Linked DNA regions of Homo sapiens: region 2 is linked to region 1. The links come from fine-mapping of genetic effects on gene expression. A gene starts in region 1. The other region holds a variant in brackets. All regions are shown on one strand. Distances are from middle to middle. Region 1 holds the start of SLC25A17 (solute carrier family 25 member 17). Region 2 has its middle 62 kb from the start of MIR4766.

Evidence for each region.
Region 2: its variant is fine-mapped to the expression of SLC25A17 in ovary (GTEx, PIP 0.95).

The regions. Positions count from the first base shown.
Region 1 is chr22:40,812,398-40,825,116 of GRCh38, reverse strand. SLC25A17 (solute carrier family 25 member 17) reads left to right here and starts at 5,771. Exons shown (of 9, transcript NM_006358.4): 1 at 5,771-5,922. The coding sequence starts at 5,869. It overlaps ST13 (ST13 Hsp70 interacting protein), which reads left to right. Exons shown (of 12, transcript NM_003932.5): 12 at 1-582. It overlaps MIR4766 (microRNA 4766), which reads left to right and starts at 11,159; the gene lies at 11,159-11,234. RefSeq lists an enhancer at 7,739-7,798.
Region 2 is chr22:40,745,797-40,758,515 of GRCh38, reverse strand. No RefSeq gene overlaps it. Among named protein-coding and RNA genes, the nearest start is that of MIR4766, 62 kb to the left of the region's middle. The variant A/G (reference allele first, on the strand shown) is at 6,547.

The sequences.
Region 1 (12,719 bases):
TTTAAATAAGACTAAGTATAGGCATTGTACCTGACATTGCTACGTTTCTACCAGTGTTTCAATTTAAAGTGCTAGTGTTTAAAAACATTTTCAAGGGATAAGGCCTTCTGTACTTTGCTTATTTGAAGAATCAGTGGTAGGAGCAGTGAAGTAAATTCTATGGAGTACATTTCTAAAATACCACATTTCTGAAATCATAAATAAGTTTATTCAGGTTCTAACCCTTTGCTGTACACAAGCAGACAGAAATGCATCTGTTACATAAATGAGAAAAAGCTATTATGCTGATGGAGCATGCTTTTTAAATCCTTTAAAAACACTCACCATATAAACTTGCATTTGAGCTTGTGTGTTCTTTTGTTAATGTGTAGAGTTCTCCTTTCTCGAAATTGCCAGTGTGTACTTGGCTTAACTCAAGAACAGTTTCTTCTGGATTCCTTATTTGATTTATTTAACCTAATTATATTCTAATATTGCAAATATTACCATAAGTGGGTAAAAGTAAAATTCCTCTTCTGAAAATGTGTCCTGTGCTTTTAGATTTTTAAATTCCATAATATACATTCTTAATTTTCAACTCAATATTCTAAACCAGAAATGTTTTCTTGTACTGATGCTATCAGAAGGAAGTTTTTTCTGCTTAAAAATATAGTTATATTTCTAGCTGTCTTTAAAATACGGTTTCAAACTAGATATTGGGCAGGTGCGGTGGCTCACGCCTGTAATACCAACACTTTTGGGAGGCCGAGGCGGGCAGATCGTCTGAGGTGAGGAGTTCAAGACCAGCCTGGCCAACATGGCGAAATCCCGTCTCTACTAAAAATACAAAAACTAGCCAGGCATGGTGTTGGGCACCTGTAATTCCAGCTACTCGGGAGGCTGAGTCAGGAGAATCACTTGAACCTGGGAGGCAGAGGTTGCAGTGAGCTGAGATCACGAAACACAGTCTCAAAAAACAAAAACTAGTTTTTAATTTCCCCCCCCACCCCCGACTTTTTGTAGCATATGTTCTATTTTATGTCTCTGGTACTCAGGTTATTTACTAGGTATATTAGGCTGCAGACTATTAAGTGCTGCAAACAAGAACCCCTAAAAAACATGTACTTTATTTTGGGTAGCTGTTCAGAGGCAGGCATTCTGCCATACTTAGAAGGTAGCTTCCATTTCTAGTCCAAAGTTGCTTGCTCTGGTGCTCATTCTCCAATTGAGGAAATAGGAGAAGGGGGCTCTGGGAAACACGCTGAGATACTGAAGATAATATATGATGTTAACATTTTATTACTTCTAATATCCCATTGGTCAGTTTGTGTGTTCAGGCTATGTTTAGCTGCAGGGAAAGCCAGTTTGTCATCCATAACTGTGTGATCACATGCTCAAGAAAAAACTTAAGAGTAGAAACAGGAAAGACGACTTGGGGTGACACCTAGCAGTCTACCATACTAGGAAATACTAGTTTGATAAGATAAAGGAGAAACAATTTCATTTTAGAGATTTGCTGATGACTAAAATTAATGCACCTGAGTAGGCACAGGTAAGTAGTGTTTGTGCCAAGCCCTGTTATAATCAGTTTGCAAGTATTGGATCAATTCTGATAATGACCATAAGGGTAGATACTGTTAGCACCACTTTACAATTTTATAGATAAGGAAACTGAAGCACTTAATAAGTAAATTGCCCAGGATAACACAGCTGATTATTTGTAAAGCTGAGATTCTTGAATACAGAGGTTTGTGGCTTCAAAGGGCTTTCTCCCAAACTCTGTACTGTGCTGCCTCTGTGTACAAGGTTGATTCTTGCAGAATTGTTTAAGGAACTGAAAACTAAAATGTACATTTGAATAAGGTTGGTTAAATAAGGAGTGTCACACACTTGATGTGCTGATGTGTACATCCAGGGGGTTTCTTCCTAATAGTAAGGGACACAGCATAATTGAAGTGCATGACGAGCCCCCAAATAAGGGCAAGAATAAACTAAGTAAAAATTATAGTACAGTAATTATAAAAAGTTCAATATGTGCCAGTATTTACAACCAGTATATAATGTACTTAATAGAGCTCATACAGTTTGGAGAGGAAAATGTCCTAAAGTAAATAGGCAACAAAAGTGAGTAACTGAGCTTTAAAAAGCAAATTTAAATAGTATGTCAAGTTGGCAATTTTTCAGTGAGACCTTTCATATAGTGCTGGTGGAAGTGTAAGTTTATGGTTTTCTATAAAGTTGTTTAGCAATAAATAAAAACTTTGACGTTTGGTGAAATCCTAATTTTAAAATTACGGCTCTAAGAAGCCAGGAGGTAAGTAGAACTAATGTAAATGTCTGTGGTGCTCTGAAAATCTAGGCATCTAATACATAATTAAGTAGTTTACTCACACAGATCACTGGGACATTTTTAGATTGCAGGGTAAGTAACCTGACCATACTTAAGCCAGTGTAAAAGCAACATACACGAAATGGCAAGTACTAGCTAGGTTCCTTTAATTCTTATAGCATGGGTGTATATAGAATGGCCCTAAATTTTTTATATACTTTATGTAGTGTCAAGGGGTATGATGCTTATATAATTCAAAGGACCCTCTTTAAGGAAAAGAATGTAATTATGAACACTAAATTGGACACACAAGTAGATACTTGTTTAGAACGAAAAAAGCAGCCAAAAATTACAATCCTTAGGTTTTTTGAAACAGAATCTTTCTCTGTTGCCCACACTGGAGTGCAGTGATGCAATTGCAGCTCACTACAGCCTTGACCTGGGCTCAAGCAATCCTCCCACCTCAGCCTCCCAAGTAGATGGGACTGCAGGCATGCACCACCATGCCCATCTGTTTGTTTTTAACAGCAATGAGGTCTTACTTTGTTGTCCAGGCTGGTCTGGAACTCCTGGTTTCAAATAATCCTCCTGCCTCAGCCTCCCAAAGTGCAGGGATTACAGGCATGACCCCCTGTGCTCAACTAAGTTATAATTTTTAAAAATTATGTCTCAACCGGGCACGGTGGCTCACGCCTGTAATCCCAACACTTTGGGAGGCCAGGGGGTGGGGGGGGGGGTGAGGTCAGGAGTTCGAGACCAGCCTGGTCAACATGGTGAAACCCTGTCCCTAAAAAGTACAAAAATTAGCCAGGCGTGGTGGTGCATGCCTATAGTCCTAGCTACTCGGGAGGCTGAGGAAGGAGAATTGCTTGAACCTGGGAGGCAGAGGTTGCAGTGAGCTGAAGTTGCGCCATTGCACTCCAGCCTGGGCGACAAGAGCAAAACTGTCTCAAAAAAAAAAAAATATATATATATATATACGTATATGTGTGTATATATATATATATATATATATACGTATATATACGTATATATATATACGTATATATATATATATACGTGTATATATATATGTATGTATGTGTGTGTCTCGAACATCACAGCTTCATAGTTCCAGTTAATAACTGATGTAGCTATGCAGTGTCTACGTTTTTCAGTGCATACTGATTATATGAAAATGACTTTGGCTGGGTGCAGTGCTCACACCTCTAATTTGAGCACTTTGGGAGGCCGAGGTGTGTGGATCACCTGAGGTCAGGAGTTCGAGACCAGCCTGGCCAACATGGTGAAACCCTGTCTCCACTAAAAATACAAAAATGAGCCAGGTATGGGGGCGTGCACCTGTAGTCCCAGCTACTCGGGAGGCTGAGGCAGGAGAATCACTTGAACCCGGGAGATGGAGGCTAACATGAGTCAAGATCGCGTCACTGCACTCCAGCCTAGGTGACAGAGCGATACTCCGTCTCAAAAAAAAAAAAAAAAATACTGTTTTCAGTATGTCAGTCTTCAGTTGATCATGCTGGGCGCTGTGGCTCACACCTGTAATCCCAGCACTTTGGGAGGCCGAGGCGGGCGGACCACGAGGTCAAGAGATTTGAGACCATCCTGACCAACATGATGAAACCCCGTCTCTACTAAAAATACAAAAATTAGCTGGGCGTGGTAGCGCATGCCTGTAATCCCAGCTACTCGAGAGGCTGAGGTAGGAGAATCACTTGAACCCGGGAGGCGGAGGTTGCAGTGAGCCAAGCCTGGGCCACAAGAGTGAAACTCCATCTGAAAAAAAAAAAAAAGGTTGCAAGGCCCGGTACAGTGGCTCATGCCTGTAATACGAGCACTTTGGGTGGCTGAAGCAGGTGGATCACTTGAGCCCAGGAGTACAAGACCAGCCTGGACAACGCAGAGAAACACTGTCTCAGGTTTAAAAAAAAAAAAAAGCTGATCAAAATGTTTTTGGTATGTAAGATACAAAAACGTCAAAACAAAGTATTAACAATGTTTTCATAACTATGATGCATAATCCAGTATATTCTTGACAGCAAGCTCCCAATTTGATCAGGAGTCAATGAGAACTGAGTTCTCAAGTTTTACAGCCAACTAGTTTCTATGTTCCCATGCCAAAATAATCTTTTTTTTTTTTTTTTTAGGAGTCTCACTCTGTCCCAGGCTAGAGTGCAGTGGTGCAATCTTGGCTCACTGCAACCTTTGCTTCCTGGGTTCAAGCGATTCTCCTGCCTCAGCCTCCCTAGTAGCTGCAGTTTCAACATTGTAATTTCTACAAGGCGCGTGCCACCATGTCCGGCTAATTTTTTCTATTTTTAATAGAGACAGGGTTTTGCCATATGGGCCAGGCTTGTCTCAAACTTCTGACCTCAAGTGATCTGCCCGCTACGGCCTCCCAAAGTGCTAGGATTACAGGCCTGAGCCGCTGCGCCCAGCCCAAAATCATCTTCGCTTCACTTTTGGTCCTTCACTTTCACGTCATGATTCTATGGCGTGATGGGAATGTTCCTGGAAGCAGTATCTTCTGCAAATTTTGTGAAAACGGCCAGGTTAAACTTTGTTAGACCCCTCTCCCAGGGATTAAGTGTGATGATGGGCATAAAACACTAAGCCTGGCATGTAGTCAGCACTGAGGAGTTATCACGAGGATATTCTAAAAGGAAACATGGTAAAGACAAGTGGTGATGGTGTCTCAGGAAAGAATCCCTGAGTCCCTGAGGAGCATCCTGAAGCAGAATCTCACAGTATGACAGGTTAAAGCTGAATGTGGCTGCTTTAGTTTTGTGTAATTTTGTTAGTCACTTTGCAACATGGAAAAAAATTTTTTTCCTTCAGTATTTTATGAAGTACTACTACATAAATTGGCTTTCGTAATCCTCACAGCAGATGGGGATTGTTGGTACTAGTACATTGTCATTTCACAGAGGAAACCCAAGAGGTTAAATGACTTCCATAGTTGCCAACTAGGGGGAGGCTCCCACTCGCGTCTTGTATTTTGGGCTCCTGATGCTCAACATCTCTTCCCACCACACTCAAGGGTTTTTCTGGAGGAAGAAGTTTCCAAGTCCACAAGTGAGTTTTTTTCCTCTTGGCCAAAATGTGACTTTCAGAATAGAAAAGAGCTCAGGCGCAGAGAAACAGGGAGACTGGAGTCTCATTGAGTTTCCCCATCTTTGTCACCAGAGTAAAAGAAGGCCATTAAGACTTCTGAGATGGAGGAACTGGTCAGGGCCCGGGAACGCCAGAGAACGTCGGAGGAACCGGGAGCCGGGTACCTGGTGTCAGGCCGCCTTGCGCCTTGGAGCCCAGCCCCGCGAACACCTCGCTGTCCCGCCCCGCGCCCACAGGGGCCAATCAGCGTTCAGGGGCGTTCTTAGCCGCCCCCCCCCCCCCGCTTTCCCGCCCCGCGACCCGGAAGTGGTTCTAGGGCAGGCGGGCGGGTTTGAGAGGGCGGGGATTGCGACTCTCACACCCTGAGCTCCGGTGCTCCTTTCCTAACTCCACTGGCTGCGGCATCTGTGGGAAAAGTGTGGCTGGGTCTTCGAGGAGCCGCACCAATGGCTTCCGTGCTGTCCTACGAAAGCCTGGTCCACGCCGTGGCCGGAGCCGTGGTGAGACGGGGTCTTTACGCCCGGGCCGCAACGGGTTATAAGGCTTCTCGGGGGCCAGTCCCGGGATATGCCTGAGGGATGGGTCTGAGAGGGAGGTAGTGTGGGTTGGGGTCCACTGTCATGACTGTGGGGCAGAGAGGAATGGGCCATTGGCGGAAAGTTGTTGGAGGAATTCGGGGTAAGGGCCGAGACTCCGCCACCTCCTGGTCTCCTAGAGACTGCGGGGTAGAGAGCCGTGTTCACACGTGCCCGCTCAGGGTCCGCATCTTTGCCGTGGGAAGTTTAAGGTCAGGCTACCACCGCACACTCACACACTTTGCTTTACTGGCCCGGAGGAGAACGTAGGTGTGAAGCCGTGTTGCTTAGTCACATGCTTCCCTACAGCCTGTCTTCACGCTTGCCGCGGGCAAGTGGCAATACCTAGTAGGATAGCTCTGGGCACCGTTATTGGCAGGAGAAGATAGATCCTTTTTTTTTTTTTTTTTTTTCCGGACAGGGTCTTGCTCTGTTGCCCAAGCTGGAGTGCAGTGGCGCGATCACGACTCACTGCAGCCTCGATCTCCCGGGCTCCAGCGATCCGCCCACCTCAGCTTCCTGAGTAGCTGGGACTGCAGGTGTGAGCCACCACACCCGGCTACATTTTTAAAAAAAATTTTTGGGGTCTGGCAGTGTTGCCCAGGCTGGTCTCGAATTCCTGGCCTCAAACGATCCTCTCGATTTGGCGTCCTAAACTGCTGGCATGAGCCACTGTGCCTGGCTTTTTTTTCTTTCTTTCTAAATCAAGATCTGGGTTCCTGTCTACCACAAGTGTGGTTTGTTATGAGGTATACGCTTGATTCTTGGGCTTCTGGTGTCTAGGTTCCACTTGACACTTCCCCTCTCCCCTCTTTTCCTTAAAACTTTCCACTTTTGGCTTGGGTGACTCCTCTTGTGGTTCTTTTATCTCTTTGACTGCCTTTTCTCATATTCTTCACCAGTTGTTAGCACACACCTTTAGCTGTTAAAATCACTGTGACTTCAGAGGAACATCACTGAATCCTCTGTTTAGCCTCCAGAAACTTCACTGAGAGCTCACCTTCTCTGTAGACTAATCTGGATTTAACCCTAACTCCATCATTTGTTAGCTAGATGCCCTGTAAACCTTACTTTCTTAATCTGTAAAGTGGGGGAAGTGATACCTACCTCACAGAGTTTAGAGAATTAAGTGACACAGCATTTCATGAAAATGCCTAATTCAGGAAGCCTGGTTCATTCAGTTCAGCCAGAAGAGCCTTTCAGCCAGCATGAAGGCTGAGATGGACGCTTGCGTGACTTGCTTTAAGATGGGCATGGAGGCCTGTGTTTCCGGAGTGGAGGGAACAAAGAGGCAAATAGGTTTCAGGGGGCCAAATTGTGTGAGACTTTCACTCTGGCTAGCTGTTGAACTTGCTGATTTACCTTTAAACGTGATCACCCTGGCTGCTGTGTTGAGAGTAGAATGTAAGGGAACAGGGGACAAGCAATTATCAGGCGAGAGATGATGGTGACTTGGATCCGGGTGGTAGCAGACATGGTAGAAGTGATCATTGACCTGGAATATATTTATAAAATGAGGGTTGGTTGACTCCAAGAGTTTTTGGCTTCAGTAACTGGAGGGATGGTGGTATTTACTGGGATGGCAGAGGCTGTGAAGGAGAAGGTTTTGGGGGAAATGATAAATTTGGCTTTGGTTTTGGAGGAGTTTGAAATGCCTAAGAGTAGTCGTGAGACTAGATGAGCTCACTAGGGAAGTGTGTATGGACTGACAGAAGAATCTCAATGACTGAGTCTTGGAGCAGGCTAACCATTAAGAGGCCGAGAAAATAAGATTGCACCAGCAAAGGAGACAAACGAAGGATGGATCAGTACTGCAGGAGGGAAGCTAAGAACTAAGAGTGAAAGCCACGTGAAGAAAGTGTTTCTGGGGAAGGAAGTAGACCAGCTGGGTCAGATGCTGCTGATGGGTCAAGTAAGGTGAGGACTGAGAAATAACTGAGAATTTATCATGTTGATAAATCCAGTGGTTAATTGAAAAGACCAGTTTTGGTGGAGTGGTGGGGGAAATAGTTGGAGTGCATCTAAGAGAAGAAAGTGAGAAGATGGGAAATGTTTTTCTCTTCCTTCTTGCAATAAATGTTCATTAAACACCTTTATTGAGTGCATTCTATGTGCCACACGCTGTTCTAGGTGCAAGGAGTACAGTAGAGAAGGTCTTTTTCTTCATGAACTATGCATTGCAATAGGGGAGTCAGACAATAAATGAATAGGCTGGGTGCGGTGGCTCACGCCTGTAATCCCAGCACTTTGGGAGGCTGAGGCAGGCGGATCGCCTGAGGTCAGGAGTTCGAGGCCAGCCTGGCTAACATGGTGAAACCCCGTCTCTACTAAAAATACAAAAAGTAGCCAGGCATGGTGGTGGGCGCCTGTAATCCCAGCTACTCGGGAGGCTGAAGCAGGAGAATCACTTGAACCTGGGAGGCAGAGGTTGCAGTGAGCCAAAATTGTGCCATTGCACTCCAGCCTGGGTGACAAGAGCAAGACTCCGTCTCAAGAAAAAAAAAAAAAAACAATAAAAAATAAATGAATAAATAAAAAATAAGTAGAATAATTTTAGATACAGTTAAGTGCTATAAAAGAACATAGAGATTGGCAAACTTTTTAAAGAGAGCAGATGGGAAATATTTTAGGCTTTGTGTACCGTTGTCACAGCTACCCAACATTGCCATGGTCGTGTGAAATCAGCTGTAGACAGTAAATGAATGGACAGAGCTGTGTTCCAATAAAATACTGTTTTCAAAAACAGATATTAGATTGGATTTGGCCCATAGGCCATAGTTTTCTGACTCCTGCTATAGAGAGAGTGACTGGCAATAGTGGTAATATATTTCTATTTAATCTACAAAGATACTTCTTTTTTTCACTTGTTGCCTATTTTTCTCTTTTTTTCTTTTTCTTTCTTTCTTTCTTTTTTTTTTTTTGAGATGGAGTTTCGCTCTTGTTGCCCAGGCTGGAGTGCATGGAGTGCAGTGATGCAATCTCGGCCCACCACAACCTCCGCCTCCTGGGTTCAAGCGATTCTCCTGCCTCAGCCTCTCGCCGAGTGGCTGGGTTTACAGGCATGTGCCACCACGCCTGGCTAATTTTGTATTTTCAGTAGAGACGGGGTTTCTCCATGTTGGTCAGCCTGGTCTTGAGCTCCCGCCCTCAGGTGATCCGCCTGCCTTGGCCTCCCAAAGTGCTGGGATTACAGGCGTGAGCCACTGCGCCTGGCCTGGAATTACTTTTCTAACTTTGTTTATGCCTGAATCAAAAACGATTAATGAAATTATATCGTCATACATAGTATTGTATAACTTAATTTTTTAAGAAGCAAATATGGCATAATAGCTGAAAAAAAAGGTTCTGTAGTAAAGCTTAACTATGAATGCCATCATCAATCGAACTATAAAACAGGGACAATAACAATGCCTCACTTAACTGGGTTCTTGTGGGAAGTAAATGTGATTATATTTGTGGAGCATCTAGCATAATGGAACGTTGTAGTAAGACCATAATTATTCATTTCTGTCTCAAGTATATTCTTGCAAATACAGCACTTATACCTAGTTTTAGAAATTTAAGGGAATTGAAATGTTCTCTTGCCTCATGGCCATCTCCACCCATTCCCTTCACTTGTTGCAGATGATCTTACCTTTTACTCTCTAGATAAAATAGAACCTACTTGGGATGAGTTTTTTCAGTTTTTTCCAATTACAGTTGTACTCGTGTTTTCTACATTCTGCTGGTCTCAGAGGAAAAATAGACATATTCAGTGTCTGCTACCTTCAATCTTTGTCCTCCCCTCCAGCCCATGGCCAGTTTTCTTCCAGGACTTTGCTCCAGTAATTTTCATCTCTTTCCTATAGCTTTAACCTAGTATCTGCTTCTGTTCAGCCCTCAAACATGGTCAGGTCTGTCCCATCAGAAAACTATACCAATCTGATCTGGAATCTGGTAGCTTCTTCAGCCTCTGCCTGTTCTCTTTCCCTTTGTGCTAAGCTTATTTAAAGAATATTCTGGGCCGGGTGTGGTGGCTCACACCTGTAATCCCAGCACTTTGGGAGGCTGAGGCGGGCAGATCACGAGGTCAGGAGATCGAGACCATCCTGACTAACACGGTGAAACCCCATCTCTACTAAAAATACAAAATATTAGCCGGGCATGGAGGCAGGCGCCTGTAGTCCCAGCTACTCGGGAGGCTGAGGCAGGAGAACGGCATGAACCCGGGAGGTGGAGCTTGCAGTGAGCCAAGATTGCGCCACTGCACTCCAGCCTGGACGACAGAGCAAGACTCCGTCTCAAAAACAAAAAAAACCAAAACAAAACAAAACAACAACAACAACAACAATATATATATATATATATATATATATATATATATATTCTGCACGTACTGCCTTTCCTCATCCTACTTTGACCACTGGAACTGTTCTTCCAAAGGTCAACTCTGACTTCCTAACAGCTTAATCTACTATTGTGAATGGTTTAAGGTCATGGATAACCAGGTACACACACATTTGTGTCTTTTCACAATGTCAGACTTTTATTGTGTTATTTCAGTTATAAAAGACAAGTTACATGGAGTTCTCAAGGAGGCAATTTTTATTAGTACTTCTCATTCACTAGGTAGTCAGTCAATATTGTAAATCATATATAATAGTATACCTAATTAATACATAAATGATGTAGATTAAACATTCTGCAACAAAGTAACATTGAACATCAAGAGAAAAGGGTGAGGAAAAAGGGTTACCTAACCAGTCCGGGGAGAGTGATATAGACAAGTATCCTGGTTTCATCATGGCAGTGTGTTGGTCTTGTAAGAAAGAATCCTTGATGTGGGCAGAGCCTTTGGACACAGATATCAGGCTTTTATAACAAGTGACAGCAAGACAGTGTCTGTTAAGACCATTTTGAGTTTTTTAAGTCCTGTTCTTTTTATGGTCACAGAGTCTTCTGGTAAGGACTGATAGTGGAAGAGCATGCTTGGTTGTGTCTTTATCTGGAAAAACATCTGGTCCCTGTTGTCAAAGTGCTTTTTGAAATGAAAGATAGGAGTCTTTTTCTAAGATGGAGTTACTTATGTCAAGAGTGCTCTATACATCTACTGACTGTTTTTGCATTCTTAATTGATTCCAGTTCTTTGTAAGTATTCTATACTGTTGACCCTTCTACCTTTCTGAAGCTCCTTCTGAAAGAGCAGTTGGTGTTTATTTTTTACTAAATAGCAATTGCTCTTTTGGAAGGAACTTGAGAAGACATTACTCCTTTTAGGGCCCTAAAATTAACAGTGGTTTCTACTACTAACAGATACTATAGCTATAAAGGACATGTAGAAACCAACAATTGTTGAGTGCCACCTGTGTGCCTGGTATGATGCTAGGTGCCAACCATAATTTTTTGTTTTTGTTTTTGAAACTCAGTCTCGCTCTGTCGCCCAGGCTGGAGTGCAGTGGCGTGATCTCGGCTCACTGCAAGCTCCGCCTCCTGGGTTCACGCCATTCTCCTGCCTCAGCCTTCCGAGTAGCTGGGACTACAGGTGTCTGCCACCACACCCGGCTAATCTTTTTGTATTTTTAATAGAGAGGGTATTTTTTTTTTATACAGAGTCTCGCTCTGTCACCCAGGCTGGAGTGCGGTGGCACGATCTCGGCTTACTGCAACCTCTGCCTCCCAGGTTCAAGTGATTCTCCTGCCACATCCTCCAGAGTACCTGGGACTACAGGTGTGTGCCACCACTCCTGGCTCATTTTTGTATTTTTAGTAGAGATGAGGTCTCACCGTGTTGGCCAGGCTGGTCTCGAACTCCTGACCTCAAGTGATCCACCCACCTCAGCCTCCCAAAGTGCTGGGATTGCAGGTGTGAGCCACCATGCCCAGCTACTTTCCATAATTTGATTCTAACTTCTCATAGCAACCTTGACAAATACCGGTCTCAAAATTACAAATGAGGAAATTGAGACATAGAGATTTGAAGTTACTTATGTAATATATACTATACTTGGGACGTAAACCTATATTTTATCCCTAAACACTCGAGAGTGTCATCCATGAGGCCATTTGTGTAACTTGCCTATCTGTCTGTGTATGTATGAGTTAGCTTGATTGTTATGTCAGGGAAAAGACTTACATTAACTCTGATGAGGTGAATAACATTTTTAAATATGAAAGCCATTGTAAGTGGCTTTTAATCTTTAGAATTTTATTAGCTCAAACCACAGAAAACATCTTAGGTGGTTTTTAAAAATTTTTTTAAATTTTTATTTGTTTTGAGACTAAGTCTCACTGTGTTTCCCAGGCTGGAGTGCTGTGGGATGATCACAGCTCACTGCAGCCTCAATCTCCTGAGCTCAAGCCATTCTCCCACCTCCTAAAGTGCTGGGATTGCAGGTGTGAGCCACCGTGTCTGGCTTTAAAATAATCTTTCTGTTCTATAATGCAGTGTTCTAAATCAGGAGAGGCTATACATTGATTTCAGTGGTGCTGCTGTGACTCAGCCACGTCGGGACCCCTCTGGAAACTGATTTTGGACTAGCATTGTCTTTTTTACCCCCACCACTAGTTTTCACCCTGCTAGGATGAATCAACATTTTAGAAACAGTCAGTCACATTTGGTGATTTGGTTGGTATACCAACCCAAACATCATTGTTTTATGCTTAAAAGGCATGAAAATATGCTTCTGTATTTATGTATGTTCTTATCTATTATTCCCATAAGATTGCACACGCTGGGGGGACCA
Region 2 (12,719 bases), 67 kb after region 1:
AAATGCCATCCTTTTTTCCACAACAGCATGCTGTCTTCCTAGAAGAGGTAAGCCTATTACTCTCGATACATATTATATGCCAAAGGACCCCAGGTTAAAAATATAGCCACTCGATGGTTGTGATTGTTTAGCTTAACAAGCAACTTAGCAAATAAGTTCAGAAGTTTGCCAGCACTATTTCTCTTTTCTCCAAAGATCAAAGGTAGATTCAGCATACAGTCAATGAAAGAAAATAAATTGGATTCTTTTTTAGTATTTGGTTGACCTTTACTAAGAATCTCTTTCCGCCGAGTGCGGTGGCTCACGCCTGTAATCCCAGCACTGGAGGTCAGGAGTTTGAAAACAATCTGGCCAACACGGTAAAACTCCATCTCTATTAAAAATACAAAAATTGGCCGGGTGTGGTGGCAGGTGCCTGTAGTCCCAGCTACTCAGAAGGCTGAGGCAGGAGAATCGCTTGAACTCAGGAGGCAGAGGTTGCAGTGAGTTGAAATCACGCCACTGCACTCCAGCCTGGGAGACAGAACAAGATGCCATCTCAAAAAAAAAAAAAAAGAATATCTTTCAAGGCTCAGTTCCTGCATCTTTTTCCTTGAGGTATGATTTATGCAGTAACACCCACGTTAAAAAGAGTAGGCCCATCATTTGAATTTCAAGTTTGGGTGAGGATGTCCGTAAGACAAAGGTCTCTGGAATGCTTTTTATTTTATTTTATTTTATTTTGGAGACAGAGTCTTGCTCTGTCACCCAGGCTGGAGTGCAGTGGCATGATTAAAGCTCATTGCAGCCTCAACCACGCAAGCGATTCACTCACCTCAGCCTCCCGAGTAGCTGGTACCACAGGCAAGTGTGACCCTGCCCAGCTAATTTTTTTTTTTTTTTTTGTAGGTGGGGTCTTACACTATATTGACTAGGCTGGGAGGTATGTATGTCTTTGTTAGTTTTTGGAACATAATACTCTGGGTGAAGCTCTGTCAAGCACCTTCAGCATTAAATTGTATTTATTTGTTTACTTACCTACCCGCTCAACCAAGTAGATTCAGAGCTCTGAATCCTCGTTAACATGGCTAAGTACCAGGCATTGCTATGAATATTCTGTAAATATTTGTCCATTGAGTTTATATTGAGGGGGGTGGGCTACAGTGTTGAGAAAGACATGGCTTCCCTAAGATTTAGTGCCTTAGAAATTTCACCATATTAAATACCATATGGTTGATGCACTCCTATCTTAGTCTGACTTGAATGAAGTGTGGGCGTGTCTAGGCAGAAGGAAGCTGAGAAATACATGCATGATCTCAGGAGCTTGTGAGTAGAAAAGGTACTGTGTAATAAAACAAGAATGCTAGCCTCAGTGGCTCACATCTGTAATCCCAGCACTTTGGGAGGCCAAGGCGGGTGGATCACATAAGGCTAGGAGTTCAAGACCAGCCTGGCCAACATGGTGAAACCCCATCTCTACTAAAAATACAAAAATCGCCAGGCGTGGTGGCATGCACCTGTAATCCCAGCTGCTTGGGAGGCTGAGGCACAAGAATCGCTTGAACCCGGGAGGTGGAGGTTTCAGTGAGCTGAGATCACACTACTGCACTCCAGCCTGGGAGACAGTGAGACTCTGTCTCATGAAAAAGGAAAACAAAACAAAACAAAACAGGAATGCTAGCCATGCTAGCCTGGGTAACATGGCAAGACTCCATCTCTACAAAAAATTAAAAAGAAAAATAGCCAGGCATGGTGGCATGTTTCAGCAGTCTGAGCTACTCTGGAGGCTGAGGTGGGAGGATCACTTGAACCTAGGAGTTTGAGGCTGCAGTGAGCTACGATCATGCCACTGCAGTCTGGCCTGGGTGACAGAGCGAGACCCTGTCCCTTAAAAAGACGTCAACAAATAATTTTTGAAGATCTGCCATGTGCCAGCCACTTTGCTAAGCAATAGGGATAAAATGTAAATGAGACAGACAAGATTCTTGTCTTATGGGATTTGCATTAGAATGGAAAGAGACAGACAATAAGCATATAAACCAGTAAAGTGATTTTAGACATACCTAAGAGCTATAAAGAACATAAACTAGGGAGAATTTTTTTTTTTCTTTTTGAGACGGAGTCTCGCTCTGTTGCCCAAGCTGGAGTGCAGTGGCACAATCTAGGCTCTCTGCAAACTCCGCCTCCTGGGTTCAAGCAATTCTTCTGCCTCAGCCTCCCGAGTAGCCAGGATTACAGGCGCCCAACACCATGCCTGGCTAATTTTTTGTATTTTTAGCAGAGACAGGGTTTCGCCATATTAGCCAGGCTGGTCTCAAACTCCTGACCTCAGGCAGTCCACCCACTGCAGCCTTCCAAAGTTCTGGGATTACATGCGTGAGCCACTGTGCCAGCCCCCAAGGCACAGTCTTAAGAGGTCCTAAGAACATGTGCCCAAGGTGGTTGGGTTACAGCTTGATTTTATATGTTTTAGGGAGACATAAGACATCAATCAATACATGTCAGCTGTACATTGGTTTAGCCCGGAAAGGTTGGGGAGGGGAGCTTACAGGTCCTAGGTGGATTCAAAGAGTTTCTGATTGGCAATTTGTTGAAAGAGTTATTATCTTAAGACTCAGAATCGGCCAGAAACAGTGGCTCACACCTGTAATCCCAGCATTTTGGGGGCCAAGAAGGGTGGATCACCTGAGGTCAGGAGTTTGAGACCAGCCTGCCAACATGGTGAAACCCTGTCTCTACTAAAAAAAAAAAAAAAAAAAAAAATTAGCTGGGTGTTGTAATGCATGCCTGTTGTAATCTCTGCTACTTGGGAGGCTGAGGCAGGAGAATTGCTTGAACCTTGGAGGCAGAGGTTGCAATGAGCTGAGATCCTGCCACTGCACTTCAGCCTGGGTGACAGCGACACTCTGCCTCAAAACAAAACAAAACAAAACACCTGGAATCAATAGAAAGGAGTATCTGGGTTTAGATAAGGGGTGGGTTGTGGAGACTAAAGTTCTTACTATATAGATGAAGTCTCACAGGTGGGTGCCCTTAGAGGCAATAGATGGCAAATGTTTCCTGTTTAGATCTCTAAAAGGTGCTAGATTCTGAACCAATCTCTTCAGGATCAGAAAAAGACCTGGAAAGGGGCCAGAATTCTCTAGAGAATGTAAATTTCCCCCACAAGAGACCACTTTGTAGGGTCATTTAGAAATGTCAAAGAAGGCCGGGCATGGTGGCTCATGCCTGTAATCCCAGCACTTTGGGAAGCCAAGGCAGGTGGATCATGAGGTCAGGAGATTTGGCTAACATGGTGAAACCCCATCTCTACTAAAAATACAAAAATTAGCCGGGTGTGGTGGTGGGCGCCTGTAGTCCCAGCTACTTGGGAGGCTGAGGCAGGAGAATGGCATGAACACAGGAGGCAGAGCTTTCAGTGAGCCGAGATCACGCCACTGCACTCCAGCCTGAGCAGCAGAGCGAGACTCCATCACTCTGTCTAAAAAAAAAAGAAATATGTCAAAGAAATATATTTTGGGGGTAAAATACTTTAATATTTTAGGGCCTGCTGGCTGTCATGTGATGCTATACTAGAATCAGGTTGGAATTTGGTATCTTATTGCTACAAAGAGTATGTTTTGTTGGCCTCAAGGTCCCTGTTTTAATGTTAATGCTGGGCAGCTGTGCCTGAATTCCAAGAGGAGAGTATAATGAGGCACGTTCAACACCTTTTTCCTATCATGGCCTGAAATGGTTTTTCAGGTTTACTTTGGAATCCCCTCGGCTGAGAGAAGGGGTCCATTCAGTTAATTGGGGGTCTTAGAATTCTATTTTTGGTTTGCATTAGTGTCACCCAACTAAGACAGTTTATATATTCTATTGCATTATATGTATGTAATTTCTTGTCTTGTTCCTGATCTTCGGGGAAAGCATCCTGTCTTTTGCCTTTGAGCATTAGCTATGGATTTTTCATAGAGTTCTTCCATTGTTTCTTTTTCCCTTTTTCTTTTTTTTTTAGAGACTGAGTCTTGCTTTGTCACCCAGGCTGGAGTGCAGTGACGCGATCTTGGCTCACTGCAGTCTCTGCCTCCTGGGTTCAAGTACCTCTCCTGCTTCAGCCTCCCAAGTAGCTGGGACGCGCCACCATGGCCAGCTAATTTTTGTATTTTTAGTAGAGACTGGGTTTCGCCATGTTGGCCAGGCTGGTCTCGAACTCCTGACCTCAGGTGATCTACCCACCTTGGCCTCCCAAAGTGCTGGGATTACAGGCGTGAGCCACCGTGCCCGGCTCCTGCATTGTTTCACTGCCTGCAAGCAGGCTCGGTAGGACTGAACTCCTACGCTGTACGCAGCACTGAATACGTGGCACTACATAAACAGATTGTTTTCCTAATCATAGTGGCAAGAGAGAAAAATTCCTAGGCAGATAGGGGCAGGTCCCTGGTGAAACCCAACCTTCAAGCCAAAGACAGCTTAAAGCCTGCAAACTGAGCTGCCAGTTCTGGGTAGAGTCCACAACCGGAGTGAGAACTTTCCTTGATGCCTTTTAGCCAATTGAATGGTGCTTTTTCCAGGCCTGCCCATAGACCAATCAGCATGTACGCCCCCATTCTGAGCCCATATAAACCGTGGACTCACCACACATTGGGCTACCCTCTTTCAGGCTCTCCTGTCACACAGGGCTACCCACTTCAGGTCCCCTCTCATTATCGAGAGCTTTTCTGTCACTCAATAACATTCTTCCCTGCCTTGCTCGCTCTCCAGTGTCTGCCTAACCTCATTCTTCTTGGTTGCAGGACAAGAACCTGGAACCCACCAAATGGTGGGTGCGCAAAGAGCTGTAACACTGTAGCTCTCCCTCCTGCTCGCCGAGCAAAGGGGGAGAAAAAGCCACTGTGCACCACATGCCCCCATTCACCAAGCTGCGGGCGACGGGACTGGAGGAGCTGTGACACAAATGAGCTGTAATACGCCCCCCATTCACCGTGCTGCAGGCAGCAGGAATGAGAGAGAGCTGCGTCATTTCTTGGGGACTCAAACCTTGGGACATCCCAGGCAAGAGCTATAACACCCCTTGGGGCTCCATGGTTGCTGGCATGTTCGTGTTTTCAGCCGCTACCGCGTTCCCCTCATCTAAAAGCTGGTGCCTAACATGAAAATGGTCCACAGCATGCCTGGCTCAGCTGCAGGCTGAGCACGGAATCCTTGCGCATGCACAGGATCTGGGTTGGTAGCCTGAGCTGAGCGCAGCCTGCCAGGGCGAGCTGGTGGAGTGAGCCCAGGAGTAAGCCCAGAGCCAAGCCAAGCCTGGACAGAGTTGCTGCCAGCCGTGGATGTTTCCAGGTGTCGAAGCGGCATCAAAATCATCCTGTGTCACTAACATCATTGCAATGCTACTTCTTTATGCACCAAAATGTTTTGACTTATTGCTTTGTTTTCTTTTAACCATTTTGTACAGAAATCATTCTCAAAAGCTAAACATCCTCGGTCACTTTCTTTTTTTTCTTTTTTCTTTTCTTTTTTTTTTTTTGAGATGGAGTTTCACTCTTGTTGCCCAGGCTGGAGTGCAATGGCGTGATCTCGGCTCACTGCAACCTCCGCCTCCTGGGTTCAAGCAATTCTCCTGCCTCAGCCTCCCGAGTACCTGGGATTAATGGCGCCCACCACTACGCCTGGCTAATTTTTTGTATTTTTAGTAAAGACGGGGTTTCACCACGTTGGCCAGGCTGGTCTCAAACTCCTGACCTCAGGTGATCCACCTACCTCGGCCTCCAAAGTGCTGGGATTACAGGCGTGAGCCACCGTACCCGGCCCATCCTTGGCCACTTTCAACATAACATAGGCCAGGCACAGTGGCTCATGCCTGTAATCCCAGCACTTTGGGAAGCCAACGTTGGGAGATTGTTTGAGCCCAGGAGTTTGAGACCAGCCTGGGAAACCTAATGAGACCTTGTCTCTACAAAAAAAAAAAAAATTTAATTAGCTGGGTGTGGTGGCACACATCTGTAGTTCCAGCTACTTGGGAGGCTGAGACAGGAGGATTACTTGAGCTCAGGAGGTGGAGGCTGCGGTGAGCTATGATCATGCCACTGCACTCCAGCCTGGGCAACAGAGTGAGTCCCTGTCTCCAAAAATAAAAATAAAAAATGAAAAATCAAATAAACATAATACATATCATTCAGTTTTTGCTTTAGCACTGGGACATCATTGTGATGTGTCACTCTGGTGGCACATAATGTGGGGATACTGTAACTGCCCAGTGGGTTCATCTTGCCCTCTGGCTAGGCAGAGCCAATTTATCAAGACAGAAATTGCAATGGAGAAAGAGTAATTCACGCAGAGCTGGCTGTGCAGGAGACCAGAGTTTTATTATTACTTAAATCAGCCTTCCTGAGCCTTCGAGGATCGGAGTTTTTAAAGATAATTTGTGGGGCACGGGCTTGGGAAGTGGGGAGTGCTGATTGATCAGGTTGGAGATGGAATCATAGGGAGTCAAAGTGAGGTTTTCTTGCTGTTTTCTGTTCCTGGGTGGGATAGCAGAACTGGTTGAGCCTTATTACAGGTCTGGGTGGTGTCAGCTGATCC[A/G]TGGAGTACAGGGTCTGCAAAATATCTCAAGCACTGATCTTAGGTTTTACAATAGTGATGTTATCCCGAGGAGCAGTCTGGGGAGGCTCAGACTCTTAGAGCCAGAGGCTACAAGACCCCTAAACTGTAATTTCTAATCTTGTAGCTAATTTGTTGGTCCTGCAAAGGCAGACTGCTCCCCAGGCAAGAAGGGGGTCTTTTCAGGAATGGGCTGTTAATAATTTTGTTTCAGAGTCAAACCATGAACTGAATTCCTTCCCAAAGCTAGTTCGGCCTATGTCCAGGAATGAACAAGGACAGCTTAAAGGTTAGAAGCAAGATAGAGTCAGTTAGGTCTGATTTCTTTCACTGCCACAATTTCCTCAGTTATAATTTTCCAAAGGCAGTTTCAATACCTTTGGGAACTTATTGGACGGCTTGTCCCTTCAAAGAACCACTCCAAACTGCTGTGTTTTTGCATTTCTGTATCTTTTTTTTTTTTTTTTAACAAATACATATTGTCCTGTTCCTAGCTGTTAATTAACACTTTTTCTGACCTTCACATGCCTGCGTCTGAGAACATTCTCTTCTAATAGGCAATTTCTAATTTGGTGAGACTGCCAAAGAGCCACAAAGTTTTTAGAAGTTTTTATAAAACAAGAGCAAGTACACTGAGGAGGACATTTTCCTATGAATAAAGTGCAATACCTTGTTTGGTGACTTAAACGCCTCTTATTTCCTAGGTTCTCAGCTCTGTTCTGGATGAATCACTGTCAGGTATACAGTATTATTATATCATAAATAAAATTATTTTTTAAGTCTTCTAGTCCTCTCCCCCTCACCCCACTCCCAGTTAACTAGCTTTTTGGCAGTTCTAGAACTGGGCAACAGAAGAGGTTGGCTTTATAGACAGAACAGCTAAAGAAAAACAGAGCAAGACCCTGTCTCAAAAAAACAAAGACAGAAAGCAGAAGCAAAGAGCAAAGAGCATATTGGTGATTTCAAAGCTATGTTTCTTATAAGGCAGGGACAGAGAGACAGAACAATAGAAAAATAACTGACTAGCAAACATCAAGCTACTTTTTTCCTGTAAGGACTAAAGCAGAGGGAACTTCATTATCATGCCAAATGAAGATTTAAACTGGCCTGTTTGGGAAATTATTTGTGATTTTGGGGAGGGTCAGTCAACTTGGTTTGGGTTTAGTGATGTGGAACTTTGGCATAGGTGAGTCCGTTTTGATTTTTGATCTTGTCCATTGGATCCAAGAGCAGAAACTTAGTCCAAAACAATAACATCCTGTAATTTTTATTTAATACATTTAATCACATAGATTCAAATGCATAATACAAAGATGGTCAGAATTACTAAAAGAAATTGACAGATCCGGCTCAGTGCAGTGGCTCACATCTGTAATCCCAGCATTTTGGGAGGCTGAGGCAGGTTGATACCTGAGGTGAGGAGTTCAAGACCAGCCTGGCCAACATGGAGAAACCCTGTCTCTACTAAAAATACAAAAATTAATTGTGCGTGGTGGTGCATGCCTGTAATCCCAGCTACTCAGGAGGCTGAGGTAGGAGAATCTCTTGAACCCGGAAGGCAGAGATTGCTGTGAGCTGAGATCGGGCCACTACATTCCAGCCTGGGAGACAGAGCAGGACTCCATCTCAAAAAAAAAAAAAAAGAAATCGACAAATCCACTAATCATGTGGAACTCTTAACATCTCTTTTTGAAAATTAGATAGGCTAAAGAATATTTGAGTAGTATCTTATAATTATTTACCTCTTTGATATGGTGATTCATAATAAGATATATATATTTGGTGTCTGTCCCTGGTTCCTGGCACACAACTCCTAAAACCCTTGGAGTCAGAGGAGTAATAAGAGTATCTTTTGTATGCTGATGAGGTGACTGATGGGGCTGGCAGCCCCTAGATAGCTTCAAGATGGGGGTTGGTCACCAGAAAGCCCAAGGTAGGATTAGAGGGTTGGGACTTTCAGTCCACACCCCACCCCCAACTTCCAGGGAGGAGAGAGAAAGTGGAGTTGATCATCAGTGGCCAATGATATAATCAGTTGTCATCCTGAAATAACCAAAAGCATCAGCATCCAGTTTTAGAGAGTATATTCAAGCAAAAAGCTGGGAACAGTCATCTGGGTAACATAGACTCCAGAGAAATGGGGTCAGTGCTCCAAAATTAAAAGTTAAGGTCTTGCTTGTATTGGCTGAAAATAAAGAAATTTAGTAGGATTATAACATTTTCTATATCAGACTGGTGTATGAGTTACAATTTAATTAGTTGCAGTTTATTTTCTTTTCCTTACAGCTTTCCTTTTCTTTACAACTTGTTTTCATTTCCTTTCCAATTCAAAGGTGTGTATTTGACACTCTATCTTAGATAATGTGATAGTCGCGGAGTCTTTGTGTGGGAAGGAAAAGAGGGAGGTTAATCTAAAATGAAAATCAACAGTTAAGAGGGAAGGGGTCCCTGATGCTCTTTAGTCATTTACAACATTTTACAAAACAATGTAGGTAAGGAAGAAGGCCACTCTATAATCAGAGAAACATAAGTTACAGCTGGCTGCCTAGGTTATAGCTGCCTGATTATGACACTCAGGTCCCATAATCACATTCCCTTAAGGTTCAAAATATTTTAAACTTCCAACTGACACAGGATTCTTTCAGTGCCACCTCACCAGCCAGAAATCTTCATGGCTGGGGGCACCCCTACCCGGGCCTCGCTTGGCTCCGGGCTCACCACTGGGCTTACTCTCCCCACTCAGTCCAGCAGGCTGTGCTTGGTTCATGCTACAAGCCCAGATTCTGCACCCGTCGTGGCTCTGCACTCAGCCCGCAGCTGGTCCAGGCATGTCATGACTGTCTTCCACCTTGGGCACCGGTGTCTGGACGAGGGGGACACAGCAGCACCTGAAAACTTGGAGATGCCAGCAACCACAGAGCCCCAAGGGGTGTTATGGCTCTCACCTGGGGAGTCCTGAGGTGTGAGCCCCCAAGGACTGTTAGAGCTCTCTCTCCTTCCTGCTGCCTACAGCACAGCAAATGGTGGTGGTGGGGAGCGTCTTACAGCTCATTCATGTTACAGCTTATGTTTGTTCCTGCCTCCCAGTGGCAAACGGGAGGACATGTTATGGCTCATTAGTTCCTGCCATCCACATGCTTCAGTGAACGGGGCGTCAATCCTGCTGCCCCACTCTGGCCTGAGGTTCCTGGGCTGCCCCAGCCCCACCGCCGCCTCTTCCTGTCACGTGGGATGGCCGCCCGACACTGGCAGAGGATGGGTGGGCTACAGTGTTACAGCTCCTTTCACACCCATGGTTCAGTGGGTCCCAGGTTCTTGTCTCATGTGCAAGAAGAATGAGGTTACATGGACACCAGAGAGTCAGCAGAGCAGAGAAGCTTTTATTGAGCAACAGAACAGCTCTCATCATGAGAGGGGACCTGAGGTGGGTAGCCCTCTGTGTAAGAGGGGGCCTGAAGGTGGGTAGTCCCAACATGTGGCTAAGTCCAGGGTTTTTATGGGCTCAGGATGGGGGCGTGCATGCTGACTGGTCCATGGGCAGGCCTGGAAAAAGCACCATTCGACTGGCTAAAAAGGCATTGAGGAAGTTCTTACTCCACTTGTGGACTCTATATGGAATGGGCAGCCCATTTTTCAGGCTGCAGGCTGTCTTTGGCTTGAAGGTTGGGTTTCACCGGGGACCTGTTTCTGTCTGCCTAGGAATTTGTCTGTCTCTTGCTGCTTTCACAATCACTTAGATTTTGAATTACTTATTTTCACACAATCGAGCCTACGTAATGAAGACTATAAAAACCTAAAATGGGCCAGGCATGGTGGCTCACACCTGTAATCCCAGCACTTTGGGAAGCCGAGGCGGGCAGCTCACCTGAGGTTGGGAATTCGAGACCAGCTTGACTAATGTGGAGAAACCCCATCTCTACTAAAAATACAAAATTAGCCTGGCGTGGTGGCACATGCCTGTAATCCCAGCTACTTGGGAGGCTGAGGCAGGATAATCTCTTGAACCCGGGAGGTGGAGGTTGCGGTGAGCCGAGATCGCGCCATTGCACTCCAGCCTGGGCAACAAGAGTGAAACTCCGTACCAAAAAAAAAAAAAAAAAAAAACTAAAATGATTAGATTCAGAGAGCTTCTGGATTGCAGAACATGTGGAGGTGTCTAGAGGGTGGTGTGCCCAGAGATGGCCTGAAAGTTCATCCCCCTCCCTCATGCCTTGCCCTATGTATCTCTTTCATCATGCTGTTCATCTGTATCCTTTGTAATATCCTTTATAAAATAAATGTGTACATGTAAATGATTTCCCTGAGCTCTGTGAGCCACTCTAGAAAGTTAATCAAACTCAAAGAGGGGGTGGAGGGGAGCCCTGATTTATAGCCAGCCAGTGAGAAGATCAGGTTACAACCTGAGGGTTGCAATTGACCTCTGAAGTGACAGGCAGTCTTGTGGAACTGAGCACTCAATGTGTGAGATGTGATGTTATTGAATTGGAGGACACCCAGCTGTTGTCCACGGGAGACTCTGCTAAAGAATTGCTTGGGCCAGGCACAGTAGCCCATGCCTGTATTCCCAGCACTTTAGGAAACTGAGGCAGGTGGATCACCTGAGGTCAGGAGTCCGAGACCAGCCTGGCCAACATGGTGAAACCCCCATCTCTGCTAAAAATACAAAAATTAGCCAGGCATAGTGGTGCACGCCTGTAATTTCAGCTACTCAGGAGGCTGAGGCAGGAGAATTGCTTGAACCCTGGAGGCAGAGGTTGCAGTGAGCTGAGATTGTACTACTGCCCTCCAGCCTGGGTTACAGAGCAAGACTGTCTAAAAAATAATAATAATAATAATTGCTTGGTTATATGTGGGAAGAAATCCCTGTACATTGAGAATGAGAAGTAGCTTAGAGCAGTCTGAGCTATGTGAGGTTTGCAAAATGTATCACACCCAGCGAGTCATGAGTATACTTCAGTCACACATACATACCTGCACCCAGGCAATTGTTTAAAAGCATTTTCTTCTTTCTTTCCTTACCTGTAGTTTCCAGACTAGCTGATAAATGACCTAAAATGTTATCACAAGTTGCAGAATGTGACCCTTACCCATTATCTTCATGTTCCTAGAATTTGTGATACAAAAAAAAAAATGTATAGCCAATCAATAGCTTATGTTATTTTAATGAACCAGTGTAAGAACTACCCCTTCTTTTTTCCTTTAAAAACCCATGTATAGCTGCTGCTAATTGAAGCATATATTCAGGGCAACTTGAATCTATGTCTTCTGGGTTGCAGTCTTCAAATTTGGCCCAAACAAACCCTACTTAAAACAAACAAACACCCGTCTCCCTCTCCCGTCTCCCTCTCCCTCTCCCGTCTCCCTCTCCCGTCTCCCTCTCCCTCTCCCGTCTCCCTCTCCCTCTCCCGTCTCCCTCTCCCTCTCCCGTCTCCCTCTCCCTCTCCCGTCTCCCTCTCCCTCTCCCGTCTCCCTCTCCCTCTCCCGTCTCCCTCTCCCTCTCCCTCTCCCGTCTCCCTCTCCCTCTCCCGTCTCCCTCTCCCTCTCCCGTCTCCCTCTCCCTCTCCCGTCTCCCTCTCCCTCTCATGCCGAGCCAAAGCTGGACGGTACTGCTGCCATCTCGGCTCACTGCAACCTCCCTGCCTGATTCTCCTGCCTCAGCCTGCCGAGTGCCTGCGATTGCAGGCGCGCGCCGCCACGCCTGACTGGTTTTCGTTTTTTTTTGGTGGAGATGGGGTTTCGCTGTGTTGGCCGGGCTGGTCTCCAGCTCCTAACCGCGAGTGATCCGCCAGCCTCGGCCTCCCGAGGTGCCGGGATTGCAGATGGAGTCTCGTTCACTCAGTGCTCAATGGTGCCCAGGCTGGAGTGCAGTGGCGTGATCTCGGCTCGCTACAACCACCTCCCAGCCGCCTGCCTTGGCCTCCCAAAGAGCCGAGATTGCAGCCTCTGCCCGGCCGCCACCCCGTCTGGGAAGTGAGGAGCGTCTCTGCTTGGCCACCCATCGTCTGGGATATGAGGAGCCCCTCTGCCTGGCTGCCCAGTGTGGAAAGTGAGGAGCGTCTCTGCCCGGCCGCCATCCCATCTAGGAAGCGAGAAGCGCCTCTTCCCCGCCGCCATCCCATCTAGGAAGTGAGGAGCGTCTCTGCCCGGCCGCCCAT